3 linked regions of the Homo sapiens genome follow. The protein of the gene in region 3 purifies or fractionates together with the protein of the main gene of each other region. This does not show direct contact. Each region holds a gene or a part of one and is shown on either strand. Other genes may lie near its edges.

Region 1 (3,750 bases), on a different chromosome or scaffold from region 3:
GTCCAGGAGCCAGGCTGAGAGGCCCCAGGCTCCTCCCGAAGAGGGCAGAGTCCCTGAGAAAGGTGGTGGAGCTGCCCAGGAAGAGGGGACTAAAGTGAACTCGGCCACTGCTCTGTGCCTTCCCCTGGACACTGAGCTGGCCGAAGTCACCAGCCTGGCTGTATGCAGGGTCTAGCTGCCCAGGCTGCTGGGAGGGCCCTGGTCACCCAAAACAGCCCGATTCAAGAGCTCAGGGACTCCTGATGGCTCTTTGGACCCATTGTACAGACGAGGAAACTGAGGCTCAAAGAGTAGTGACCTGTCTCACCTCTGCAGGTGTGGAGGACAGCAAGGGGGAACCAGGGGGCATTTTGGGCCCCCAGCCAGGGCTGTTTGTGGCAGAAAGGACTGGTCCTGCAGGAGGACCCAGCTCCAGGCTCCCTCACCCTCCCTCCTTTTCCTAGTCCTGTAGGCTTGGACCACAACCGGAAGCCCAGCTCGCACCCAGGCTTGGACGACAACCGGGAGCCCAGCTCGCACCCAGGCTTGGACGACAACCGGGAGCCCAGCTCGCACCCAGGCTTGGACGACAACCGGGAGCCCAGCTCGCACCCAGGCTTGGACCACAACCGGGAGCCCAGCTCGCACCCAGGCTTGGACCACAACCGGGAGCCCAGCTCGTACCCAGGCGCAGGGGCCTTTTTTTTTTTCCTTTTGAGATGGAGTCTCGCCCTGTCCCCCAGGCTGGAGTGCAGTGGCGCAATCCCGGCTCACTGCAACCTCCATTTCCCGGGTTCTAGTGATTCTCCTGTCTCAGCTTCCCAAGTAGCTGGGACTACAGGCTCCCACCACCACGTCCAGCTAAGTTTTGTAGTTTTAGTAGAGATGGGGTTTCACCATGTTGGTCAGGCTGGTCTCGAACTCCTGACGTCAGGTGATCCACCCGCCTCGGCCTCCCAAAGTGCTGGGATTACAGGTATGAACAACCGCGCCTGGTCCCTTTTTTTTTTCTCTTTTTTGAGATGGAGTCTCGCTCTGTTGCCCATGCTGGAGTGCAGTGGTGTGATCTCGGCTCACTGCAACCTCCGCCTCCTGGGTTCCAGTGATTCTCCTGCCTCAGCCTCCCGAGTAGCTGGGATTATAGGTATGCACCACGACGCCTGGCTAATTTTGTATTTTCAGTAGACATGAGGTTTTGCCATGTTGGTCAGGCTGGTCTCAAACTCCTAACCTCAGATGATCCACTCACCTCAGCCTCCCAAAGTGCTGGGATTACAGGCGTGAGCCACCGCGCCTGGCCTAAGACTCTGTTGCCCAGGCTGCTGGAGGGCCGTGGTGGGATCCTCCTGCCTGAGCCTCCCAAGTAGCTGGACTACGAGCTCACACTACCAGGCCTGGCTAGGAGGGGGGAGGATTGCTTGAGCCTAGGAGTTTGAGACCAGCCTGGGCAACATAGGGAGACTTCCATCTCCACAAAAAAATAAAATAATTAGATGGGCATGGTGGGGCCAGCCTGTAGGCCCAGCTACTGGGGAGGCTGAGGTGAGGGGATCACTTGAGTCCAGGAGGCGGAGGCTGTAGTGAGCCAAGATCGCACCACTGCACTCCAGCCTGGGCACCTGGGTGACAGAGCTAGACCCTGTCTCAAAATGAAAGAAAGAAAAGAAAAGAGAGAGACAGAGAGAGAGAGAAAGAAAGGAAGAAAAAAAGACACACACACACACACACACACGCACGCACGCACACACGCACACACGCACACAAAACCCCCCAAAAAAACATTTCCTGAGTTCTCCGTGTCAATGAAACTGACCTAGGAGAACAGAAAAGCCCTCAGGGCTGGCGGCTGGTCCGGCGCGTGCAGGCAGCCCCGTCTGAGCCCTGAGAAGCAGCCCGGGCCTCCCTGAATCCCCCATCAAGGGCGTCTTTGTTCTGCCTGCTCCCTCCCGATACAGTTCCTCGTTTTGGGGCCAGGATGATCATCTCCTCCAGGGGCTCTTCCCATCCAGGGCTGGGCAGCAGCCACAGTGTTTTCCCGGCACACCCTGGGCTGCCTCACCCCCCAGGCCGCGAGTTCCCAGGACTGGAACCAGAGGGGCGCTTTCCCCGGCCCCGTGGCTGAGCCCGGGACAGTGTGGGCAGTTCTGGCTCTGGCCTCCCCCGGCCCCGTGGGTGTCAGAAGCTGGGCTGACCACTCTCCCTGGAGCTTTCCTCCCTTCCTCCCTTCCTCCCTTTCTCTCTTTCTCTCTTTCTCTCTTTCGTTTTGAGACAGGGTCTAGCTCTGTCACCCAGGTGCCCAGGCTGGAGTGCAGTGGTGCGATCTTGGCTCACTACAGCCTCCGCCTCCCGGGCTCAAGTGACCCCCTCGCCTCAGCCTCCCCAGTAGCAGGGCCTACAGGCCGGCACCACCATGCCCGTCTAATTATTTTATTTTTTGTGGAGACGAGAACCTGAGGACAGCCATGTCCTGAGGGTGCTCCCTGGGGGCGGAGCCTACCTGGGGGCGGGGCCTTACCTGGACGTGGTACTGCGAGGTCTCGTGCATGATGACGTTGGAGTTGGAATACTTCTTCCTCTGCTCTGAACCGGGAGACACCAGTCACTCCCCCGACGGGCAGGACCCACAGCCTCCCGTCCAGTTGGGACTGGACCCACAAGGGAAGGTGGAGTCAAGCGGAGGGAGGCTGCTCCGTGGACCTCTTGGCCACCAGGAAGGATGTGGGTGTGAAATCAGGACCTGCAGGAAGCCCCCTCCCTCCCTCCAGGGAAGCCCCCTTGGAGAAGGACGCAGCTCGGAGAAGGCGATGGGCTTGCTCTGAGTGGAGTGGGGACCAGCAGCCTGTGCCCGGGGGGTTTCTGTCCCGGAGGGTGAGGGGACAGGAAGGGGGTCCCAGCCCGGCTTCTTCCCACTCTGAGAGCTGCCAGCTTCACTCTCCCTGCCCTCCCAGGTCTTCTCGCTTTCCAGACTAGGCACCTTGTCCAAAGACATAAGTGAAGGGTGCATCTAGCTAGCGAGAGGGCAGGGTCGTCTCTGGGGAAGGGCAGAGTGGGGGGAGGTGGGGGCTGGCCAGGCCCCCCTCCTGGAGCAGACACCTGGCGGCTTATCCTGCCTGAACCTCGCTGTGATCAGGTTACAGCAATGAGTGCAGCGGAATCAATATTGATGCTCCCTGAATTATTAGTAAAGGCCTCTCCCCTTACGGGTGTGGGGGAGGGGATCCAGTGGCCAGGAGCTTTCGGAAGGTTGATTAGGGTCCAGAGGCCTCCCTGGGCACCCGGAGATCCCCTGGGCCAGACCAGGCACAGCTGTGGGGCAGGAGCAGCTGTCCCCCACCTGGATGCAGTGCCCATTTCTCCCCTGTGACGTCCAGCCCGTTCTCAAACCTCACTCACCAAACAGGTCCTTGGGGCTCATCTTGGCCACACCGTCGGACCGGCCCAGGCTGCCACTGCAGGGGAGGGGCTGTCAGGGCAGGGCCAAACTGCACCCCTCCCTGGGGACTGTTCAGAGGGTGAGGGTGGGGTATTCGGGATGGGTGGGAGGGCTCACTTGGTGGCACCCGGGCAGCAGCTCACGGCCCCGGACTGGCTCATGGTGTCTTGGGTGGCGGCCAGCGGGAGAAGGGCAGACCTCAGTGTGGCCCCGGTCTGAGGCCAGTGCCTGTCCCACACCTGGGTGGACAGAAGGGCTGCGCTGACACTTCCTCCGGCCTGGCTGGTTCCTCCCCTCCTTCCCTGGGCCAGATCCCTGACTGGCCTGGCCTGGGTGGG
Region 2 (3,750 bases), on a different chromosome or scaffold from region 3:
AAATTATGGACAGCATGTTTAATAACTGCTTCAAATAATTTCCTCCTAGTTTATTGTCTTTTAGCTTTGTTTATGAGTTGCTTTTTAAATACCTTTTTCTTTGGCTATGCAGAGGATAGGTTTTTACGTGGTCTATAGTTTCTTTTTTTGGCTTCTGGTATTATGCTTACAAATATCTTTTTCCAGGAATATGAAAATATTTTTAGTATTTAATATTTTACATATTTTCACCTAGTACATTTACTTTTTTTATATATAAACTTAATACATTTAGAATTTATTTTTGTGTTTAGTATGAAGTATGGAAATAAATCTTTTTCAAAATGCTCATTGTGCTAGTACCACAGATTGACTAATTCACCCTTTCCCCAGAGATCCTTAGATATCCCATCTTAAAATGCAAAACAGACCTTCATCTGGATTCTCTACACAATTCGACTTCATTTGGTTTTTTTTAGACATAAAGCAATTCACTCTAGTAACTTCTAACTAATTCTAACTACTTAGGACAAAATTGGTCCAAGTAACAGAAAGTGAGGATCCACTTCTGAATGGCCAGGAGCCAAAGTAATTTTTCAAAGAATCAGGAGCCTGAACAACCAGAGTGTGCCACAAGGTGTGACAGAAACCAAAAAGAAAGGTTGCTGCACCAGTGTTTGGTACTACTTCCTAGGTTTTCTCTTACGCAACACAGGAAGAATGTATTGTTTATATATTATATATTTTATTAATATTATGATATACATATACAACATAAGATACATGTTTTGTTTAAAATGAACTTACCTTCTCTCGCAATTCGTCCACACTACTGCTTTCCAATACAACCTCCTGGAAGGGATCCAACTTCATCTCTGAAGGCTTCCACCGTCTTGACAAAACTGCAAGCTGTGACATGGACTTCATCTTCTCTACCCCTAAGAATATGCAAGATTAGGTCATCATTCTATTTCCTCTGAAGGTTCATAATTTGACTTTTCCCTTAGTGCCTTACTAAACAAAAAGATTTACTTCAAGTGTTACTCTTAAAAAGTGGGCACAAGAAAAAACCCAATTATCCCAAGGAGTTTTTGAGAATGAAATATTTACTCTCTTCTCTCCAGTCTCAGAAGATAATTCCTCTCTTCTTCAAACCAGTACTCCTAATTCCACTCCCTCCTGACTCCTGTTGAACACTGCATTACCAATTACTCTCTTCTCTGGATTTCCAATCTTTGTTTCTCTATTGGCTCCTATCCCTATCTAAAATCATAAACAAATCAACTTCACTTTATCCTCTTTTTTCACTAAAGCTATTATTAATCCTTCTCTTTCCATTTACTCCCCAATTTAGTGATTCTTCAAAATTGTCACTTTTCCATTATGTCACTTTTCAAGCATCAACTCAATTGTCACTTTTCAAGCATCAACTCAATTGTCACTTTTCTCTGGTGTACACAAGAAGAACTTCTACTGATTCAGTCCCTTAGTACCTATTATTTTAGAATGACAGGTTTGCAGTTCTGTTTCTTCCACAGACTGTGTGCACCAATAAGTGGTTCTTACTCATTTTTGTAGCACAAGGGATTAGCAGTGTCTGGCAAATTACAGGTCAATAAATACCTCTTGGATTTAATCACATGACATTTCTTACTCAACTATCTTGATGTGAAAATATACTGAAATAATACTGATGCAGGCACCCACCATCTAGTACCATTTTCAGATGAATCCATCTCTGCTAATACATACTCAATCCTTACAAGGGTGACTTCTTTGTCATTTATGATCTCTTCCTGACTTACCCAGGCACAGTGATTATTCCCTACGACCCCAGATACTCAAAGAAATCACAATCTGGAGCACTTGCCTACACACCATAGTAGATGGTATCCTAGTTGTTCCTTACCTCCCAACTTAACTTGTCAATTAATCAGAATTTCAACCATTTAAATTTATGGTTGAATTAGACCTGAAGCAGCCTGAAATACATGAGGTGTTAGTATTATTGAGCTCTCTAAAAACTAGGATAATCTTGTAACAAAATATCCAGAATTCATATTTTACTTTCTACAGAAGAAAAGGAAAATTAAAATTTTCCTAAGCAACAGCAAAAAAAGAATATAGAACTAGTTGTTTACCTTGATGTGATCTTCTAAAAGCCAACTTTCCTCCTATAAGCCTCCCTCCAAACACCAATACTTTAAATGTGCCAATGTTGATAACGAAAACTGGGAGGTGTGACAAGTATGTCTGCTACTTGGACCTCCTCAAGGTCACTGCTATGGGTTGAATTGTGCCCCCCACAAAAAGACATTTTGAAATCCTAATCCCTAGTACCTCAGAATGTGACCTTATTTGGAAATAGGGTCTTTCCAGTGATACTCAAAGTAAAATAAGGTCTTCAGGGTGGGCCCTAATACAATAGGACTAGTGGTTTATGAAAAAGGGGAAAACAATACAGACAGACAAGCCCACAGAAAGAACACCACATGAAGATGAAGGCAGAGACTGGGGTGATGTATCTACAAGCCAAGGTTGCCAATGATGGCCAAAAACCACAGAAGCTAGGAGAGAGTATGGAACAGATTCTCCCCCACAGCACTCAGAAGGAACCAACCCTGTTGACAGCCTGATCTCAGATTGTGAGACAATACACTTCTATTCTTTAAGCCACCTGGCTTAGGACACAAATAGTCATTGTTCTTGAGTCTCTGATAAATTATCAGTACCATGTCTTCAATACAAAATAAGCCATAATAGTAAAAAAGAAACTAAAGAACAAACGTGGCTAAGAAAATATTAGCAGAGTTTTCTTAAAATGTATTAAAAACCTAACTTTGTAATTTCCTCATAAGGGGGAATTAATATTCTCAACATTCAAAAAAAGAATACTTAAAAGGCAAATGGGAACCAGAGAAAGATAGCAGAAGGCTGAAAGACACTGATTATTCTTTCAAAAACAACTTAAGCAGTTACATTAGGACACAGGGGAAGAAAATAAAACTCCCAAGGATAAGACGTAGGTAGGAATCACATCAATCCATAATAAGGATATCGTTATGCTTAATATAACACAAAACACTATAATGTATATTAGATTCCTCGTAACTCATTATTTGATTAAAAACTATAGGCTTCTATTAGTTCTAGAGTATTTCTAACTGATACTTCCCCCCAAAAATATTGAAAATACCATCAAGAACTTCAAGGAAAACCTCCCAGTTGCTGGAAATATTAATATCTTCTTCATAAATATGATAATCCAAAAAGACAGTGCCAGGATTCTTCCATGTTTTTTTCCTTAGACGAAACCTACAAATGTGATAAGACATTTAAAACGACTATAATTTGAAACTCTCAATTTAAAGATTGACACTAATCTGACACCAAAGAAAAATGAACTATGTTCAAATACAAAAGTCAAATAATGAGTTGTTAAAATCTGGGGAAATAAAGAAATGTTTCCAGTAATTCAAATTTAGAATTCTGTATAGGAAATCCAAACAAAATTTTAATACTCTTGTTTAGTCCTATTAAACTAATCTGTCATACTAAAATTCTGAATAGCACAGGAAATTTTAATTCTCCTAGTTTTAGAAAATCATACCAGTCCATTTCAACTGACCACATAGTCTTTCTTCAAATCGCTGATGACATTAATTTTACTTTACCTGTCAATACTGAGCTCTAAACCACATTGCTCCCTGAGCTGAGGAATTAATTCCTCTTTTGATTGCCGTACAGTCATTCCTTTAGCAAACACAGCAT
Region 3 (3,750 bases):
TTGGTCGAAAGGTTTCTGACCTTTTCTACAGTCTGTCTGACTTATCTGTAAAATGGTCATTATAATGACTTGTATAAGATGTTTCATCAAACCCACCAGTCCACAGTCCCTTCCAAAAGGGGAAGTACTCAACTCACAGCCCTTAACGTTAGTTAGGTTTTATCCCATGTGACAACTACTTTCCCTCTTCCCCAGGGGGAGCGAAAGCACAAGCCTGCAGAAGCAGCTGCCCCGAGAGGCAGAGATGCCCAGAGAGAGACTGGTCTTGGCTGCCTTACTCCTTAAGAATGATCCACTTTTGTGTCTCCTTATGATTAACCTCCCATTGGTTAACTTGAATGGTGCTCTGTCCATTGCAACTAACATAACCAAAATGAAACCCTATCCCATGTGGTTATTGTGGGAATTAAATGAGAGACTATAAAGTTTTTATTAACAACAGCTGGCCAAAGCAGATAATGTATTACAAGATCTAAAAAACAAAATGAATAGGTACTATCACAAGGTTTCTATACTTGTACTTGCATTTGTGTTTGGAATCACATGAGCACCTGGTACATTTATAATTTTCAGGGGCTAATTAGAACCATTAGCACTGAGCTAAATTCAGAATTGATAAGTTTATGCCAAGAGAAAGCTGGGTGATAGCAGAGCGCAGAGAATGAACTAAAATTTCACTCTATTTTGAATCCAGGTAAATGATGAGAACACTTAAGTCATCTCTACTTAGCAAGGAATATAAGCAGCCTGCTATACTCATGGATTCAGTTGGATTTCCATGTGGGGGGAAAAGGTATCCTGATCCCTATTTCACACCATACGCACCCACAAAAAACCAATTCTAGATACATTATAGATCTAAATGTGAACAGCAAAAAAACATTTTCATGACCGTGGAGTAGGCAGTTTCCTAAGCAGTTCACAAAAGTGGTAACCATAAATAATAAAAATTTAAATTAGAGTATATTAAGAACTTCTGTTCATCAAAACATACTAAAGAGTGAATAAACAATGGGAGAGACTATTCACAATATGTTATTTGACAAAGGACCCGTATATGATAAAAATGAGCAAAAAACTGTACAGAAACTTCATATAATAGAGTATCACATGGCTAATGAACACATGGAAATGGAAGATTGGAAAGAACCCAAATGCTCATAAGCTGTGTAATGAAAAAAAATGTTCTTAAGTGTATAATGGTAATATACCAAAATAGAAAAATGTTACAGCAATGAGAAATGAATGATCAACTACTCACAGCAATGTGAATGAATCTCATGTGGAATAAAAGCCAGATGAAAGAATTCATTTCTAAAGTAATAATTCAGTTAAAACTATTGTGTTGTTAAACAGGAGAGTGATTATAGAGAGTTGCAGAGCGAGTGACTGGAACCAGACACTAGGAGAAGCTTCTAGGGTGGCGATAATGATTCATCTGGATCTTCTTTGCATGGATGTATAGACCTTGCAAAAATTTATCATGCTGTACGATTATTTGGGCACTTTACTGTGTTTATACTCAAGGAAGCATGAATTGCAAAGGAACAAGATGAAACTTTAGGGGTTATGGATACATTGATTATTTTAATTGTAGGATGACTTCACAGATGTAGACATCTCAAAACTCATCAAAGTACACACTTTATGTGCACTTTACTGTACACTACTTATTTCTCAGTAAAGCCATTACATTTTTTTTAAAAAACTCCCCAACAGCACCATTTATGCTTGAGTAGAAATGTAATTTCAGCAAAACATTAATAATGTAGCTAGTTTGAATTTTATTGGTGTGGGTAAAGTTTTAATAAATCCCTTGTTTGAGACTGACTTACGCTCCACTTTCTAGTTTTGTACCCCTGGAAATGTGCTAAAGGTAGATTGTCAGTTGTGTTACCAAGCATTATAAAAATGACTTATAAAATTGCATCTAAGCTTAAACTATATATAAATGAACTATAAACACCTGATGGGGACACCATATCTTGGGGCTTCCCTGAGTGCAGTGTCTTGTAAGTAGGATGTCCCTTGCAGGGACCTAGCTATGTTTATGGAATTATTATAAGAAAGACTGGATCCTATAGGGAACGGGGCTTTTAAGCTACTGAAACCTTTTCTTCTCCTTTATCTAACTGAGGTATAATTCATATGTCATAAAAGTCATCCTTTTAAAGCATACAATTCAGTGGGTTTAGTGTATATATATTTTTAGAGACAGGGTTTTGCTCAACAGGGAGCACAATCATAGCTCACTACAGGCTTGACCTCCTGGGCTCGAGCAATCCTCCAACCTCAGCCTCTTGAGTAGCTGTACCACCATGCCTGGCAAAAAATTTTTTTTTTTTTTTTTAGTAGAGACAGTCTTGTTGTGTTGCCCAGGCTGGTCTTGAACTACTGGCCTCAAGTGATCCTCCCACTTTGGCCTTCCAAAGTGCTGGGCTTACAGGCATGAGCCATCTTGCCTTGGTTTAGTATATTTATAAACTTGTGCAGCCATCACTAATTCCAAAACATTTTCTTCACCCCCAACCAAAGAAACCCTGGGGGTTTAACAGTCACTCGCCAATGCCAAGAAGGCTCTTGGACTCACTGCCCAATGCCAAGAAGGCTCTTGCACTCATTCACTATGACATTCATCTCCTCCTGTCTGAGATGTGACTGAAGAGGAGGCTAAGAGGCTAGTTCCTGGTCAGCTGTATAGCCCAGGGAATGGCACTACTGATATTTTGGGCTAGAGATTCTTTGTTATGGGACACTTTCCTGTGCACTGTAAGACTTACAGGTTGTAAAATTTAGCAGCATCTTTGGCCTCTCCCCACTAGATACCGATAGCAACCACTACCCCTTCTACTCCCTAGGTAGGGACAACAAAAATGTCTCCAGGCATTGCCAGATGTCCTCTGGGGGACAAAATCACCAATGGTGATAAAGCTTTGGTGTAGACTGATAACAGTGCTGGGAGAACTCTGACAGAAAAGGAAGACCTGACTTAAATCCACTGGGAAGCTGTGGTTGCCGTCCTACATCCTTAAGTAGACTGGTGCCACGTGTGGTCTGTGAGTTTTGTGAGACTGAATATTTCATTGGATCTAAGAAGATCCCCTAATGGGCATTGCAATTGTTTTTTTTTTAAGTTATCTCTATTTAATGTCTAAATCTAGTTCTTTTATCAGCATAGTTTCATATCTATTTGTAATTTTAAATATATATGTAATATAAAAAGACAACACTGGGATCCATGAGAATTTTTTTCTCCTTGAAAAGGTGGTCTGGGTGTTACTCAGGTTTAAGCAACACTAAGTTAGACTAAGAGTCATGTTTTCTGTATCAAACTAGGCAAATAACCATAATGACACAAAAACCTATTTTAAAAAAGGTATTCATTAATAAAAGTTAAAAAATTAGACCTTAGCATCAGTACTAACCTTATCTGAAATCCGATGTAGTCTGAGATGTTGTGCCTATGATTAGTGTCTATACACTTTTTTTGCAGTTGTGAATTTTTTTCCTTTTTTTTTCAGCCACGTAACCCATTCTATTGATAGCTAGTATTAACCTGGTAGTAATAACAATATAGTAGTAATAACTGTGACGATAACACAGACTACTGAAGTACAGTGGAAATGGTAGATTTAGAGCTAAAAGAGCTAGGTTTGAGTCCTAGCACTGACACTTTCTGGCTAAGACATTACCTAGTTCACTCAAGTTCTAGATTTCTTAGCTACGACATGAGGGCAAGATAGCACTCAA

What was found.
Region 1: the proteins of ASTE1 (region 3) and EPS8L2 purify together in Homo sapiens (affinity purification with mass spectrometry; 2 studies listed by BioGRID and IntAct, with this or other methods). This does not show direct contact.
Region 2: the proteins of ASTE1 (region 3) and USP47 purify together in Homo sapiens (affinity purification with mass spectrometry; 2 studies listed by BioGRID and IntAct, with this or other methods). This does not show direct contact.

What each region holds. Positions count from the first base shown.
Region 1 is NC_000011.10:709,231-712,980, reverse strand, and holds part of EPS8L2 (epidermal growth factor receptor kinase substrate 8-like protein 2), read right to left. Parts: intron 3,652-3,750; 5' UTR 3,574-3,651; coding exon 3,530-3,573; intron 3,429-3,529; coding exon 3,373-3,428; intron 2,560-3,372; coding exon 2,495-2,559; intron 1-2,494. UniProt on the Homo sapiens protein: Stimulates guanine exchange activity of SOS1. May play a role in membrane ruffling and remodeling of the actin cytoskeleton. In the cochlea, is required for stereocilia maintenance in adult hair cells.
Region 2 is NC_000011.10:11,949,908-11,953,657, reverse strand, and holds part of USP47 (ubiquitin carboxyl-terminal hydrolase 47), read right to left. Parts: coding exon 3,654-3,750; intron 3,295-3,653; coding exon 3,176-3,294; intron 918-3,175; coding exon 787-917; intron 1-786. UniProt on the Homo sapiens protein: Ubiquitin-specific protease that specifically deubiquitinates monoubiquitinated DNA polymerase beta (POLB), stabilizing POLB thereby playing a role in base-excision repair (BER). Acts as a regulator of cell growth and genome integrity.
Region 3 is NC_000003.12:131,020,155-131,023,904, forward strand, and holds part of ASTE1 (single-strand DNA endonuclease ASTE1), read right to left. Parts: intron 1-3,750. UniProt on the Homo sapiens protein: Structure-specific DNA endonuclease that specifically cleaves single-stranded DNA and 3' overhang DNA.